Linked DNA regions of Homo sapiens: region 1 is linked to region 2. The links come from fine-mapping of genetic effects on gene expression. Tissue or cell type: whole blood. Region 2 holds a variant in brackets; the other region holds the start of a gene. Each region is shown on its reference strand, or each on the opposite one.

Evidence for each region. PIP is the estimated chance that this variant, and not a neighbour inherited with it, causes the effect.
Region 1: it holds the start of TULP3, and the variant in region 2 is fine-mapped to the expression of TULP3 in whole blood (TOPMed, PIP above 0.99).

Annotation. Positions count from the first base shown.
Region 1 is chr12:2,886,260-2,894,401 of GRCh38, reverse strand. It overlaps TULP3 (TUB like protein 3), which reads right to left and starts at 3,511. Exons shown (of 11, transcript NM_003324.5): 1 at 3,414-3,511. The coding sequence starts at 3,454. RHNO1 (RAD9-HUS1-RAD1 interacting nuclear orphan 1) reads right to left here. Exons shown (of 3, transcript NM_001252499.3): 3 at 4,878-6,491. The coding sequence ends at 5,943. LOC124902860 (a long non-coding RNA gene) reads right to left here. Exons shown (of 2, transcript XR_007063160.1): 2 at 8,076-8,142. RefSeq lists a silencer at 3,616-3,665 and an enhancer at 3,936-4,115.
Region 2 is chr6:43,831,155-43,839,296 of GRCh38, reverse strand. All of the region lies in intron 1 of LOC105375070 (a long non-coding RNA gene), which reads right to left. LOC105375069 (a long non-coding RNA gene) reads left to right here and starts at 498. Exons shown (of 3, transcript XR_001744130.1): 1 at 498-643; 2 at 885-1,413; 3 at 2,286-2,365. The variant C/T (reference allele first, on the strand shown) is at 4,126.

The DNA.
Region 1 (8,142 bases), not on the chromosome of region 2:
ACCATGCCTGGCTAAGTTTTGCATTTTTAGTAGAGATAGGGTTTCTCCATGTTGGTCAGGCTGGTCTTGAACTCGTGACCTCAGGTGATTTCCCCCCCCCCGCCCCGCCCCCCCGCCATCTCGGCCTCCCATGGTGCTGGGATTACAAGTGTGAGCCACCATGCCCAGCCTACTGTTTATATTTCTAAAGAGAAATCATGGTATATGGACAAACCACCGACTGGGATTTCTTAGATGACTCCAGCTCACAAGGTCACACCACAGTGGGAAGCACGCCTTCAATTCTCAATTCTCTATCACTTACAAAAGGCCAGATAGGGCTCAAGTTCCAGCACCAGCCAACCCCCGTCATCTCCAGGGAATCTATATTATAAAATGCCTAGCCTCAACAAAGGTCCTGAGTGTTGTTTCAAATTTCACCTCCAATTTTCACTAAACATTTCTGATATAAGAAAATAGGCCAAGCCTGGTCGCTCACACCTGTAATCCCAGCACTTTGGGAGGCTGAGGCAGGAGGATCACTTGAGACCAGGACTTCAAGACCATCCTGGGCAACATAGTGAGACCTTGTCTCTACAAAAAAATAAAAATTAAAAAAAATATTTGTAGTTAATAATTTCTCTATTTTGTTGAAAATAAATCTGCTTCATGATAAAAGTTACATAATTCCAAGAAAAAAAAAAAACACAGAAAACCTAAAAGTTGGTTGTTATCCTTACATTGAAAGGCAGTAATACAGAAAATTCTATCAATGTATTTCATCAAAAACATTAAACAGCCAGGCAGGGTTGGGGGGCTCACGCCTGTAATCCCAGCACTTTGGGAGGCCGAGGCGGGCGAATCCCCTGAGGTCGGGAGTTCAAGACCAGCCTGACCAACATGGAGAAACCCCCTCTCTACTAAAAATATAAAAATTAGCCGGGCACGGTGGCGCATGCCTGTAATCCCAGCTACTCAGGAGGCTGAGGCTGGAGAATCACTGGAACCCAGGAGGCAAGTAAGCCAAGATGGCGCCACTGCACTCCAGCCTGGGCGACGAGAGCGAAACTCCGTTTGGAAAAAAAAAAAAAAAAACACATTAAACACACAACCTGAAGCCCAAAAAGAGAAAAAAGCAAGAGACTCCCTCTTAGTAACAAATGAGTTAAACACTGATAGAAGTTGCACTAACATTACAGAGGGCAGGAGAAACATTTGGTGACTCACACATTCCCCTTTGATGTCAATTTTACAATTTAGGGCCAAGTGCAGTGGCTCAGGCCTGTAATCCCAGAAGTTTTGGAGGCTGAGGCAGGCAGATCACTTGAGCTCACTTCGACACCAGCCTGAGCAACATGACGAAACCCCACCTCTACAAAAAATACAAGAAATTAGCCAGGTGGTGCCACGCACCTGTGGTCCCAGCTACTAGGGATGCTGAGGTGGGAGGATCGCTTAACCTGGGGAAGAGGTTGAAATTAGTTGAGATCGCCCACCACATCCTAGCCTGGGCGACAGAGTGAGACCCTGTCTCAAAAAAAAAAAAAAATTAAAATTAAAAGAAAAGAAAATAAAATTTAAAGAGCTAGTTTCTTTCGGAAGAACAAGGAGGGGGCCAGGCGCAGTGGCTCACGCCTGTAATCCCAGCACTTTGGGAGGCCGAGGTGGGCAGATCACCAGGTCAAGAAATCGAGACCATCTTGGCCAACATGGTGAAGCCCCGTCTCTACTAAAAATACAAAAATTAGCTGGGCGTGGTGGCGCGTGCCTATAGTCCCAGCTACTCAGGAGGCTGAGGCAGGAGAATCACTTGAACCCGGGAAGCGGAGGCTGCAGTTAGCCGAGATCGCACCACTGCACTACCGCCTGGCGACAGAGAGAGACTCCGTCTCAGAAAAAAAAAAGGAAGGAAAAGCCTCTTGGTCCCAATTTCAAAGTCAATCCCGCATCCCGTTTTTTTTTCCCCAAAAAATCTGAGTCATATCAAACATCTGGTACTCATGAAATTTACTACTTTAAATTCATGGAATTAAAACTGAGCGCCCACAACTGAACAAATATTTTCGGAATTCAACCAGAGATGCTGAATACTAACTTTATCTCCTCTACCACTTACACCTGTAAATGTAGTTTTCTTCCTCGACTTGGGAAAAAAAAAAGCACAGTGAACAAATTTCAGAGTGCAGCTATCACCTCAATAGAACTTGACGAAAAAGGAAAATACATGTTCTTTACCCCCAACAACTTTGTGACAATTTTTAAAAATGGTTTAAAATTGTTTAAATATCTACTAGTGGAAATATCAAACTAAATACTTACACGTCAAATCATTTTTTTTTTAAGGTGACAGGATGTCACTGCGTTGCCCAGGCTAGCGAGCTCAGTGGCCCAACACAGGAGTTTGGAACTCCTGGGCTCAAGGAATCCTCCCTCCTCAGTCTCTCGAGTCGCTGGAACTACAGGCGCGCACCACCGTGTCCGGCCAAATTTTAATTGATTGACTGATTGATTTTATTTTATTTTATTTTTTTCTAGAGATGGGGGTCTCGCTATCTTGTCCAGGCTGGTCTCGAACTCCTGAGACCAAGCGATCCTCCTGCCTTGGCCTCCCAAAGTGCTGGGGATAATAGACGTGTTCCAAGGCGCCTGGCCCCAAATCTTTGTCTTGGTAATGGAATAAAAAGCGGGGTATACAGTTGGCGTGTAGGGCTTAAATCCTCAGATGACGCCAAAGTTTCTAACCAATGATTTCAAACGGCTTCCCATTAACTTCTCATTAACCTAGCGAACAAGAAAGTGACACGCTGAGATTTTGGATCCTTTTTTTTCCGAGGCTCTCCCTCTGGCAGAGAAAGAGGCGCACAAACAAGGGGTGTGGCCCACTGGCAAATCAGTCAGACCATCCCGAATCAGGGACAAACACTGGAAAGCAGAGAGGAAAAAGAAGTTTCGCGTTTCCGCTCCTCGGACTCTGCTCCAGAATTCAGCTTTACCCGTCCGAAGCAGCGGCGTCAGAACAAGCTACTAAACATCACCCGCACCGCCTCCCGGGAGGGGCTGGGTCCCCTCTCGGCTGTGACACCGCCGGGCAGTGGGAGCTGAGCGGGGCCAGCGCCTCTCCCCCGAGGGAAACCCGAGGCCCAGAGGGGCCGAGGGAGCCCGTCACGAAAACTCCAGAAGTTCCTAAGCAGGGACCTGAACCAAAGGTCTCTGCCCACGGCGCGGGATGTAGTGCCGCCGCTCCACTTGAGAAAGGGGTCCCCACACGGGAGTAGGGCGAGGGGGTCGCCTCCCGCCGCCGAAACCAGTCCCTCCCTGAGTCGCCAAGTCCCGAGTCCCGCCCTCTCCCCGCAGGGCTCCCGGAGAGGACCTCCGCCTTCTCGCTTCGCCCCTCCGCCTCGCTCAGGAGGAGACCTGCCACGGCCCTGTCTGACCTGTCGCCGCTGGGACTGAGCCGGCAGCGCGAAGCCTCCATGCCCGCCACCGAGGAAGCCCCCACCACGTACACACTCTTCCCCGCCGTCGCTAGAGTGGCTAGGCTGGCACGCCGCCGCGTCCCGCCTCCTGGCAACCGCGTTCCACACTGTCGCCGCCGCCGATTGGTCCGTGTTCTCGTGGCTCCTGTCTCATTGGCTATTGCCGGGGCCCAACGATGCGGGAGGGTTGCTAAGGGGCGGGAGGCGAGCGGGAGTTAAACGCGCCTGCGCGGGGGTGGGGTGACGCGAGCTAAGGCTTGGTCCTCTGGAGCGCCTCGCGGGGCCGGTACTGAGCGGGAAGACTTTGTTTTTGCCTGGGCCTCGCCCGCCGCGCGGCCAGCAGGCGAGTCCGGTCAGAGGAGTCTCCTATACCGCACCAACCGCCACGCACGCAACGGCTCCTCGCACCCCCGCCATTTTTACCGAGCCCACCCAGAGCGCTTCCCGAGGTCTGCCCTGTGAGGATGTACAGACCTCTGCCGCTTCCCATTCTGGCCCCTGCCCTGATACCAGCGGCCTTCGTGGACCCCCTCTGGTACCCTCTCCACTCCATCAGTCACTCCCAGTGAAACGCATCTTCCATAGGCTGGCCTTGAACTTCAACTGCACAGAACTTAAGCTTCCCCTACTCCAGCCCAAGCTTTTAGGTCATTCCTAGACCTGCTCTACAGACTCCCCTAAAGCACACGAGGGAATCCAGAGACTTTAATTTTTTGAGACAGGGTTTCTCTCTCGCCCAGACTGCAGTGCAGTGGCCCGGTCTCAGCTCACCGCAACCTCCGCCTCCCAGGCTCAAGCGATTCTCCTGCCTCAGCCTGTGGAGTAGCTGGGATTACAGGCAGGGGCCACTACTGCCTGGCTATTTTTCGTATTTTTAGTAGAGATAGGGTTTCACCATGTTGGCCAGACTGGCCTCTTAACTCCCGACCTCAAATGATCCACCCGCCTCAGCCTCCGAAAGTGCTGGGATTACAGGCGTGGGCCCGTCCTGGAGACTCTTTCCATCTACCTTTCTACCTCCTGTGGGCCTTCCTCAAACATCCATAGCCCACCGTGAGAGCCCCTGTCTAAATGTGTACTCTTGTCTCCAATAAATCCCGTCCCCAAATGTCAGTCCCTTTCTCCCTACCGACATGCACATTATAGTCCCTACAAAACATCCTGAGTCCTGACAAGTCACTGCACAAATGGCTTTATGGCGTTCTAAGGTCAAAGTTGTTTCCACATTGGTTTTGAACCTACAAGTTAGTACTTTAGGAGGCACACGCTGAGAGTGGACCGTTACACTGCCTGGGTCAGCGTGCACTCACTGTGTGACCTGTGCATGGTTCATTCTCTGCATCAAACTCCCATCTGTAAAATATACAGTAATCCCTGCTTGATCTAGTTGGGGCTGGACCTGACACAGTAGGTCCAGCTGAATGAATGCTAAATGAATGGGTTTAATGAGATGCTACTTGTCTGAGTAAAAGGCCGAGACATTCGGTTGACTGGGGAAGTCCTTCTGCATTAATTACAATAAGTAATACTCATTGAAAACTTTCCTTATTTACACACAGTTGAACAGTTATTCTAAGAAACCATTTTCCCACCCTATTTAATATTGACAGATTTCTTCAGTTAGAAACAAAAACTCAAAACACACGCAATCCTAAAGAACTCATCTATGTCCCCCTTATCTCCCCTCATCTTATGTAGTCCCTAAAACAGGGCTTGCTGCCCTTTCTTCTTCTTGCCTTTTCAGCAGATGAGTCAAGGTTGCAGAGGTGGCAGTCAACCATAGAGTCACAGAGTTTGATTTTTTTCCATCCATCAGGTCGTAGAAGCTGCCACTGAGCCTGACAAGAGTTGGTACTCAAAAATGCAGAATGAATTAGTTTGAATGAGGTGATTAAGGATTAATGAGTAGTGGTTAAGGAAACAAAGACCATTAGTGGATGGGGTAATATTGCTGTATTACTGATGGAAGCAGGATTCTCTAAAAAAACTTTCTGCAGCCATTTACTTACATACATTTTAAAGAGTTACTACAAGATATTTTAAAAATTTAAACAGTTAATACAAGAAAAATATGAAGTGAATAGTTCATGACACTAAACTGAACTGTTCATGACACAAAGTATCTTAGAAAACAAATCTCGGCTGGGCCAGCACTTTGTGAGGTCAAGGCCAGCAGATGACTTGAGGTCAGGATTTTGAGACCAGCCTGGCCAACATGGAGAAACCACATCTCTACTAAAAATACAAAAAAATTAGCCAGGCATGGTGGCTGGTGCCTGTAATCCCAGCTACTGGGGAGGCTGAGGCAGGAGAATCGCTTGAACCCAGGAAGTGGTGGTTGCAGTAAGGTGAGATCATACCACTGCACTCCAGCCTGGGCAACAGAGCAATATTACATCTCAAAAACAAAAACAAAAACCCTAGGAATTGAATTCCTTTATGACTCCAGAAAACATATCTCTTTTCTATTGAGATTACTGATGGCAGTCAGCTTTTCACAAGGAATTGGCTTCTGCTCAGCTTCCCTCTCTCCCTGAGGTAAGCAAGCAGGTGCTGTCGTCTCCTCCATGTGACCTTTATTCCATACTTGTCCTCGGGGGTGTCTTTAACCAGAACAGGTCCAGGCTCTGGGCTATTAGGAGTGCCAGTGTGAAGAGTGCAGCTTAGAAGGCTGTTTTCCTTCTGATCTTGGGGAATGAGTTCTTCCTTCACAGACGATGACTCTGGGGTCTGGATATCAGGTGGAATGAACACATAAGGTAAGCTCTGAAGTGCCTGCACTGACATGTTCCCACAGCTTTGGGGACTGAGCACTGGAACTAAGGGTCTTCTGGAAACATCCTTTTCTGATTCACTGGGGCACTCTCGGATTAAGGGGATCCCCAATGTCTCTGAACTGGAAGATTGCGGACTCTCAAAAGTTAGATGTGGAAACTTGGAGGTGGTAGGTTTTCGACTTGAGTGTCTCGCCCGGTTTTGGTGTTTCTGGTAGGCTGGGAACAAGCTTCCTGCTGCTGTATCAAAATCAGGTGATACCTTAAAAAAAAAAAAAAAGTGAGGTGAGCCTAACTAAGTACTAACCTAAGAGAGGAAACTGTATCTGATGACCAGACTCTTAAATCGGGGTCTACTGTAGTAATGAACACAAAACTAAAATAACTGTCTAATGGCATAATAACAGGAAGCTTTGGGCAAATTATTCCATCTCTCCGGCCTTCAGCTTCCTCATGTGTAGGAAAGGGGACGATGTCTCTTTCACTTCATCACACCATATGGATATAACTTTTTTTCTTCCCCCTGGGATGGAGTCTCACTCCGACGTCTAGGCTGGAATGCAGCGGCACCATCTCGGCTCATTGCAACCTCTGTCTCCCAGTTCAAGTGATTCTCCTGCTTCAGCTTCCCGAGTAGCTGGGACTACAGGCGCCTGCCACCACGCCCAGGTATTTTTTTTTTTTTTTTTTTTTTGGAGACAGAGTTTTGCTCTTGTCGCCCAGGCTGGAGTGCAATGGCAGGTCTCTGCTCACTGCAACCTCCGACTCCCTGATGCAAGCGATTCTGCTGCCTAAGCTTCCCGTGTAGCTGGGAATATAGGTGCGCACCACCACGACCAGTTAATTTTTGTATTTTTAGTAGAGACAGGATTTTACCATGTTGACCAGGCTGACCTTGAACTCTTGACCTCAGGTGATCCACCCACCCCGGCCTTCCAAAGTGCTGGGATTACAGGCATGAGTCACGGCACCCAGCCAATTTTTATATTTTTAATAGAGTCAGAGTTTCACCGTGTTGGCCAGACTGGTCTCAAACTCCTGACCTCAAGTGATCCACCCACCTCAGCCTCCCAAAGTGCTGGGATTACAGGCGTAAGCCACAACACCTGGTCTAGATATAACTTATTTATCTTTAAACTTCATGAGGGTAGGGACCAGTGGTCTTGTTCTTGATTCCCAGCACCTAGCAGAATGCCTGGAACAAAGAAGGCCCTCAGTTAATGAATAGCCAACTCCAAGCATAGCGGGTGAGAACTAGCAGAGGACCTGGCATATAATGAATATTCAATAAATGTTCATTCCTACTCTCATCCACAGGATTCTGATGTTTAGGTTTCTTCCACAATCCTGTAGCAGGTATTATGGTTCTTCCAAGCAGTCCTGAATAAGTTACATTTATTAAATACTCCTAAGCCAAGCTTATGCTTTTGTCTGGCCCTTTTACTATACTACTTTCCTGTTGTATAGTAGCTATATTCTCTTCCCAGGGTTTCTATTTTTTTTTTTTTTTTTTTTTTGAGACAGGGTCTCACACTGTTGCCCAGGCTGGAGTGCAGTAGCACAATCTTGGCTCACTACAGCCTTGACCTCCCGGTTCAAGAGATCTGCCCACCTTAGCCTCCCAAGTAGCTGGGACTACAGGTGCGCACCACCATGCCCAGCTAATTTTTCTATTAATATTTTTAGTAAAGATGGGGTTTCACCATGTTGCCCAGGCTGGTCTCGAACTCCTGGGCTCAAGCAATCCTCCTTCCTTGGCCTCCCAAAGTTCTAGGATTACAAACATGAGCCACCACACCCGGCCTCTCTTCCCAGGGCTTTTAAGCGGTCAAAATATGACATATGCTATTCTTATGGGGTTTTATTTTTCAAGGTTCAATCCATTACACAATAAACAGAGTATCTAGCCAAGT
Region 2 (8,142 bases):
CACTAGCAGCCACTCAATCCCAGTGCCAGTCACTTGCCCCGTTCCCAGCACAGCCCCTGGGGCCCTGCTGTCCTAAAATCATCTGCTCTGGCTTTTCTGGCGCTTTGCAGGGTTCATCAGGTCTGTTCCACTCGTGTGTTTTTCCTTCCTGCTCCCGCCCTCATCAGGGATCTCTGGGGTTCCCTGAGGGCAGGGCTATGTCTCCCCCTCAGACTGGGGCTCCTCAAGTCAGGAACCTTAGAGAACAAGCGACTGGGCACTGTCCCCTCCTCCCACCCTCCCTTTTGGTTCCAAGGCCAGGTGTTTGAGCAGGCCGTCATTTCACACATCCCAAGTCTGGGCACATGCACCGCCCAAAGCCCCTTGCCTCCCTGAAGGGGAGGCTGAAGGCCAGCCGCTGACACCAGTGGACCCACGGCGGGATCATTGCATAACAGCAGCCTGGCCACAGGATGATTCAGCACTGAGGCCTGCACAGCACTCTGACTTCTGTGGAAGACTCAGGACAGGGCTCCTCAGAATCAACAGACACGAGACCCAAGGATTCCACCTCACCTGGGGACGCGATGTTGCAGCCCTGGCATATTTGGGCCTCTTCTGGCTGCCCTGGGCCTGGCCTCTCTGTGTCTGGACCTGAGTGCAGGTACCTGGCCTGGGTTCCAGCCTGGGCAGGGCCAAGAGAGTCACCCTGCCACCAAAAGCCCACTGTCAGGACTTAGACTGCCCTCAAGCAGGGTTGTGGCCCAGCAGGAAAGTGACCTGGGGCCAGGGAAGGGACCCCAGGGGCAGCCTGGGGCTGGGGGGGGTCAACTTGGCAGTTCTTTTTCAGACCACTAGATGTCACTTCCATTTCAAAGGAACCCACTGGTTGGAATTTTCCCCAGTCAGGTCCCCACAGCCTTCAAGTCTTAAAGACACACAGACCACAAAAGAAAACTTCATTTTCCCCGGAGGACCAAGACACTGGAAACCTGGCCAGGAGCTGCCCCCAACCCTCAGCTGAAGCTTCCAGGGGCTCCATAACATCCCATCCCAACCCTGGAAAGAGCCAGAGGTGATGGAACTCCATCTCCCCATCCCCCACCTGTCCTACAGGTTAGTATGGGGATGGTATTTTCTGAAATGAACAAAAAAATGAAAGACGTGATGAAATGAATGTGAGTGCATTTGAGGGGGACGATGTTTGAAACAGGGGACATATATGCCAAAGATCCTCTTCAGGGCCAGGAGATTCCAGGTTCATCAAGGTCATGTTGTCCATCCCCAGGCTTCAGACTATCCTCAAAAAGTTCGGGTAAGGCAGCGCTGAAGGGAAGTTCCAGGGACCTTGCTTTCTCCACTCCAGTCCCCAATATTCAGTCAACATCTCTTGGCTGGCTGGGGCTGATTATTATAAAGTACAACCTTTGTGAGGTAAGTATAAAGATAACCCCATTTGACAAATGAAGACACAGAGGTATGGAGAGGGTTAAGTGAGAAAGTTCTCCCCAAGCCTCTTGCTGCTGTCCCATCTCAGCTCCCCACAGAAATGCGGCATGGATTCAGCTGGTTGGTTTATCTACAGCTCAGGTTGCTGCTTAAAGACTCATTCTCTTTAGTTCATTTGTACTGGCTTTTACCCAGTGGTTTTCAAACTTGGCTGCCCATTAGAATCACCTGGGGAACTTTCAAAAATTCTGATGCATGGCTGGGCACAGTGGCTCACACCTGTAATCTCAGCACTTTGGGAGGCCAAGACGGGAAGATGGCTTGAGCTCAGGAGTTTAAAACCAGCCTAGGCAATAGAGTGAGACCTTGTCTCTATTAAAAATTTAAAAATTAGCCGGGTATAGTGGCATGCACCTATAGTCCTTGGTGCTACTTGGGAGGCTAAGGTGGGAGAATTGAACCCAAGAGGTCGAGCCTGTAGTGAGCCGTGATCGTGCCACTGCACTCCAGCCTGGGGGACAGACTGAGACCTTGTCTAAAAAAACATCTGATGCCCTGGTCACCCCATATAAATTAATTCAGAATGCAGGAGGGTTGGAGTAAGTCAGGCATCAGTATGCTCTTGTAAATGTCCAGGTAATTCCAATGAGTGGCCAAGTCTGTGGACCATTATTTAACCACTCCCCCAACCTACCCTCAGCCAACACTGAGGGTTTACCTACAGGCCTGGCAGGGTGAGATTGGAAAGGCTGTGTTGCTATTAATGATTATTTAATCACATTTAATAATAGGATACCCAGAAACAAATACCTCACATACTGTAAGGCAGGAGGGCATGCATTGTTACTTTCCCGCAGAGGGAAGACTGACGTTCAAAGAAGTGAAGCAACTCACCCAGCGAATAAGTGAGTAGAACAAGGGCTAACACCCAAGTCTTCTTAGTTCTCAGACAAATGCTCCTGCCTCTTCATTATGCCTCCGAGATAAGGTGAGCTGCTTCCAGAGCAGTTAGCATCATACATAGAAAACTGTTCATTGTCAGTATCTGACCTCTAGCCCCAACCACTTATCAACAGCCAGTCATAACCACAGCTGACCCTTTATCTTGACTACAAGCTTGCTTTACCCTGGCTACCACTTGACCCCTAACCCTGGCCACTGCTGGCCCCTAATTGAGACCACAAGCTATCCCTAATGCCAGCCATGTTCAGCACTGGCCAGAATATGGAGGGCTCAGGCTACCCAGTCACCAAACCAGGGAATACCTCTGTGTCGTGTCATAATTACTAATGATAATAAGCACGTGGGGCCTGTGTGCCAGACAGGGTTTCAATATGTCTCTACGAACTATCAGGTCAGATCTAAAGGCTTCCCCAAAGTTTCTCTTTCTTGTAAGGCTCGCCCTTTCCTGCTCCGATCTCTCTCTTTCACACACACACACACACACACACCTCCTTGCTCCTGCAGTTCCCCAGGCCTGGAATGCCCTTCCTCCTCCCCACTCTCCAGGATCCCCTCAAGGCCTTCCTCCCAAGGAAGCCTACAGGGCCCCCAGGGTCCCACATAGCCCAGGCTTACGGACCCCTTCAGTAGGTGTCACCAGGCCCAAGAGAGCAAAGTCACTCAGCTTAGCATCTTCTCTCCTTTCTCACAAGGTCAGGAAGGTCAGGGCCGCCCAGCAGGGGTGACAGTCAGATGTCAGGGGACACTCACCCGCACAGGCACTCACATACGCACACATGCTCACCAAGTGTGTTTATAGAGTTCTGGGCAACTGTAAACTTGGCTCACTCCAGCTGCCCCCAGGAGAGGGAAAACCATAAACACCTCCTGCTCCCACCAGTTTCCCTCGACAAGGCGAGTCACCTCCCAGGACCTGGACACCCACCATTATAGGGAACTGGCTGTACTCATCGACTCTACTCAGTGAGCAATGCCCAGCCTCAGTCACATCCCCAACACAGGGGAAGCGCCCCAGGCCCCTGCCATAGCCCTCCTGAGTCTTTGCAACCCTGGGAATGCCTCACCCTTCTCTTCCCTCGCCACCTTCAAAGGGCCACTCTCGGTCTTACCTCTAAGACACTCCCACTGATCTCCTTACTACATACTGAGTACTTTCTGGAAGGGGCTTTAAGACAAAAAGCCTTTGGGATGAGACCTAATATTCACTCTTAGAAATCCATTCCCCTGGGTCAAGCAGTGCTCTTTCCTCTGGAAGGGTTGTCTCAATGGGTCTCTGGATCTCTATGTGACTGTGCTGCAGCAGAGGCAGCTGGTATACAGGTGGGTACCACCTGGAGCATGAATTCTGGCTCTAAGTGTGGCACCACCTGCTTGGGCGGTACACTCTCTGAATGCGCAGTGAGGAACGGACTGCAAATCTCTAGGGTCCCTCCAGCTCTAGTAGCCAGTGGTTTCTCCTTCCAATCAAGGATTTTTATTGGGAAGTCACACAATTGATCTTGCTACTTTGAAATGTTGCCGTAACTTTAAAGGAGAAGTCCTACTGAGGCAGGCCTAAAGCGTAATAAAATTAGGTTAGCTGTAGGGAGGAACTTCCAAGACCGTGCATTACAAGGCACAGAGGATTGTAAAGCAAAACCAAAGAATATCTCTTCTGGAAATCTTTTAAAATGCAAGAAAGATATTCCTCAAAGGCCGAGTCTGACTTTGCTGGATATTTGGGGCCTTTTATTA[C/T]TATTGAAAGGGGAGAGAGTGTGACCTTTCCTCAAGCCAGGAAAGGGTTGGGGGGGCCTTGATGGAGTTCCCAGTGCCAAAGGATAGAGAGCTGAATGGACCCAGGGCCTCACCCCTACCTCCTCCATTGTCCCCTGTTCCCCTTAATGAAGGCTCAGACCAGAACAACCAATGAGGCTTGGAAAATCCGCCTGTTGTGTGAGGGGATTTTCCATAAATCTCCCTCATTCAGGCAGCGACAGCCCCGTGCCCTGTGGAGGGAGGGCTGCCTGGCTGCTGGGGACCCTTGTTAAGAACAGGTGCTTTCTAGCCAGATCCCTGTTCCTCTGGGCCCCTCAGCCACCTAGGGGCTTTTGTAGGGAGGTAGTGAGGAAACCCACCCAGGCTTCCAGGAGCCATCTCCAAGGAAAATAACCTTGGGCCCCTTCAAGCCTGCAAGGGTGAGAAAATGGGCTCTGACCTACCAATGGGATTGCAGTTTAGAGGGTTGTTTTGCATAAATCTGTTCACCACCCGTTCAAGGCCTCCCTTGTGAAACATTATAGACCTCACCACGGAGTATGGGAGCCACTAGCCACATGTGGCCATTTAAATCTAAATTATCAGCTTGAACAATGTTGTGAAACCCTACCTCTACAAAAAAATTTTCTTAAATTAGCCAGGCGTAGTGGCGTGTGCCTGTAGTTCCAGCTACTCAGGAGGCTGAGGTGGGGGAATGGCTTAGGTCTGGAAAGTCGAGGCTTCAGTGAGCCGAGACTGCACCACTGCACTCCAGCCTGGGCCACAGAGTGAGACCCTGTCTCATTCATAAATAATCTAAATTAACTAAAATTGGGTTTTAAAACTACCGTAAATCAGATGCATAGTTTAAGTGCTCGGTACCCGCGTGTGGCTAGTGGCTACTGTTTTCCACAGTGCGGCTCGAGAACATTTCCACCATCACAGAATGTTCTAGCGGACAGCACTGCTTAGAGCTGACACTAAACAGAGCAGCCTTCCATTAGAGCAGAAATGCAAGCACTGACAACAGGAATAGAAGAAGTCTTGTGCTGACAATGGAGAAGGCTCCAGGGACTCAGGAAGCCCCAGTCTGAGGGGAAGGCACAACCCTGTCCTCAGGGAGCGCCCAGCCCAAAAAGGGTTAAATAATTCCTTGGTCGGATCTTGTTTTCCTGAGCAGGTGAGGGGGAAAGGGCCCAGCTGTCACTTAGCAGGCTCATTAGTGATGTCTGCTGGGGCCTTGCCCTCCCCAGGGGTAATTATTAACAGGCCTCAGGTGTGAGAGAGCATGCAGCCCAGGCCTCACCCTCCCGTTCAGCTGACTTGGCCAGCTGGGCATCCTTGGTTGGGGCGGGAGGACCCCAGAACCAAGAATCCCAACTGGAGAGACAGCCCTGGGGCTGCCTGAATAATGATACCACCAAGACCTGGCTCTGTGGCCCCCGTTCCCCAGCGCTCCCACCCTGAGTTAAGCCCTGCTCTGTGTTTGATAAGATGGACTGCCAACCAGGGGGCACAGCACTGACCAGGAAGGCTGCCCGCCACTTCCCAATTAAACTGTTCAAAACTGGGGGGCCGTCCCTGCAGCCTCACTGGGGAAAGTCTAATCTCACCAAACCTGGGCCAGGGCCCCTTGCCTTGTCAGCAGGAATTTTCCACATTTGCTGAGATTTCTGTTTGTCTTCTCCATTAGCTCAACAAGCATAGATGGAAAGATGACTAAGATAATTAGTGACTGACAGTAGCTCTGACCATGGGGCCAGGCCAGGAGTGAGTGGCAGGGGCTGGAGTGTGGCTGGAGAAGCTGTGAGTCAGCCAGAAAGTGTGAGCGCAGGGCCTGTACCAGGCCTGGAGACCTCAGACCAGACAGGAGGGAGCCCAGAGCAGACCCATCAGAGTCAGAGGCAAGGGACAGAAAGAGCAAGTGATAGCTCCTGCCTCATAACCATGGAAACGGCTCCAAACGGAGGCCGCCTCTACCAAAGAAGACTCAAGCCCCTGGGTGGGTCAGTGGGCCTGAGGAGGGAGAAAGAAGCCTATTCCACAGCTGCAGCCCAAACCTGGCCCTCAAATGGCCTATGTTCACATGGCACAACAAGCAAGCAGGGATGCCACTAGAGAGAAAGCCCAACCTTAACCTCTTGCCAGTAGGGATGGGGTAGGGGAGCTGGGTTTAGAACCTTCTTTCTAAAGCATATCCCAAGCTTACCTCAGCCATCACCCACTTCAGTAGGCTCCCAATTCTTTTGATTATATACCTCTATCCACAGAAAATCTGTGACATATGCCCCTAACATGTATATAAGATATACAATATGTGCTACCATACTAATAAATTATGTACATTATAAAGGACAAAAGAAAGAATAAAAGTGAGGTTCCAATGTCTTCCCAAATGTGGATACAGTGTGGAGACTGTTGATTTACTTAAAGAGTGCGGGTGACACATTTCTAACTAAGCTCAGTAAATGAGCAAATCTTCCTGTGTTTGCAAATTCAACATCAGCCAGTCCTCCCTGGTTAACAGTTAAGATTAGTTGCTATCTCAAAATTATTTTGAACTTGAGCTGACCCTTATGCTGGGATGGAGATGGTAGCAGAGCTGGCCATGTCAGCTGACAGCAGGCTCAGAGCACCCCCCACCCCACATGGTGACTTCGCCCATGCTGTTCCCTCTAAGTAGAATGTCCTGCTGCCACTTTTCACAGTGGCAATGATTTGCCTTCAAAACTCCACTCTTCTCCAGGATTTCTTCCCTGAATTCCAGGCTGGTCAAGTGTCCCACCCCTAAACTCCCACAGCCCACTATGAAGACAGTACTGACTTTAAACAAAATGACAGACAGCGGGTCCTCAAATAATGTCATTTCATTCAACATTGTTTTTAAGTGAGAAAAAAATTCATTTTATTATACGTAATTTCACTTAAAGTTGCAATTTCCAAGGACCTATTGATGATGTTAAGTGAGGATGTACTGTACCTCTATTCTGGAATGTACTGTGCTGCCCTGGAACAATGTGTTTAACCCTCTGCCTCCCTGACTTGATTGTACAACTCCTGAAAGGCAGGGGATTGCTTTGTTCATCTTTGTATCCTCAGCTATCAGCATATGCAGACACGGATATATCCACCCATGTCCGCTCAGCACCCACCATTCTGACACTTTGAGCCCGTTTGGATTCCCATACAGGGCAGGTCAGAAGTGCCAGGGAATTGACACCCACTTCCCTAGGATCTCTCAACCAATGGCTACATGATTTCATGGCTAATACGCTAGCTCCCTTGCCCGCTGGCTGGGTAACTTTGAGATGAGTTACCCAAAGGTCCCCAGTTGCATACAGCAGTCACCTACTCAGTAGCAGGCATTTATTTTATTGGCTTCTTTCTCTTTCCTGCCTCACTTCTCTACTCCTTTACTGGTGTTTTATGGAAATCTTCCAAATAAACTATTAATGCTCAAGTCCTTATTTCAGAGGAAACCAGCCCAAGACACTGACATGTAATAGGTGATCAATAAATTCTAATTAATGAGAATCTATTGAGCAACTTCTATCCCAGCCATTGAGGGTCGTGGGAGGAGAAAGCTCACTAGGATGGAACAGCCACAGAAGCTTCTTGAGGAGTTGGATTGAGCTGGGGCATTCAAGATGGGCAGGGTTGGAGCAGGCAGACAGGAATGCAGATGGAGTTCCCAGCAGAACGAAGGGCATAAGCAAAGGTGGGGAGGCTGGAATGAAGCCTACCTATCTGGAGGGCAATGAGGAAGCACTGAGTGACACATCATATCTCCGCCCCAAGGGTTTTCCCTTTTCCATGCCTAGTTCCCCAGGTTCCTCTTTCCCTGAGCCCTGGCAGTTGGACTTGGGGCTTGGCATCTTGGGGGAAGGGCTTCTCAGAAATTCCGTGCCCTGCCAAAGAAGCAAGCAAGCCCCTGTCCCCACCCTTCAGAGCAATCCTCATTATCTTTCTCAAGACAGGCAGAGATTAGGCTGACTTCTGGGAAGGCGGATGCCTCCA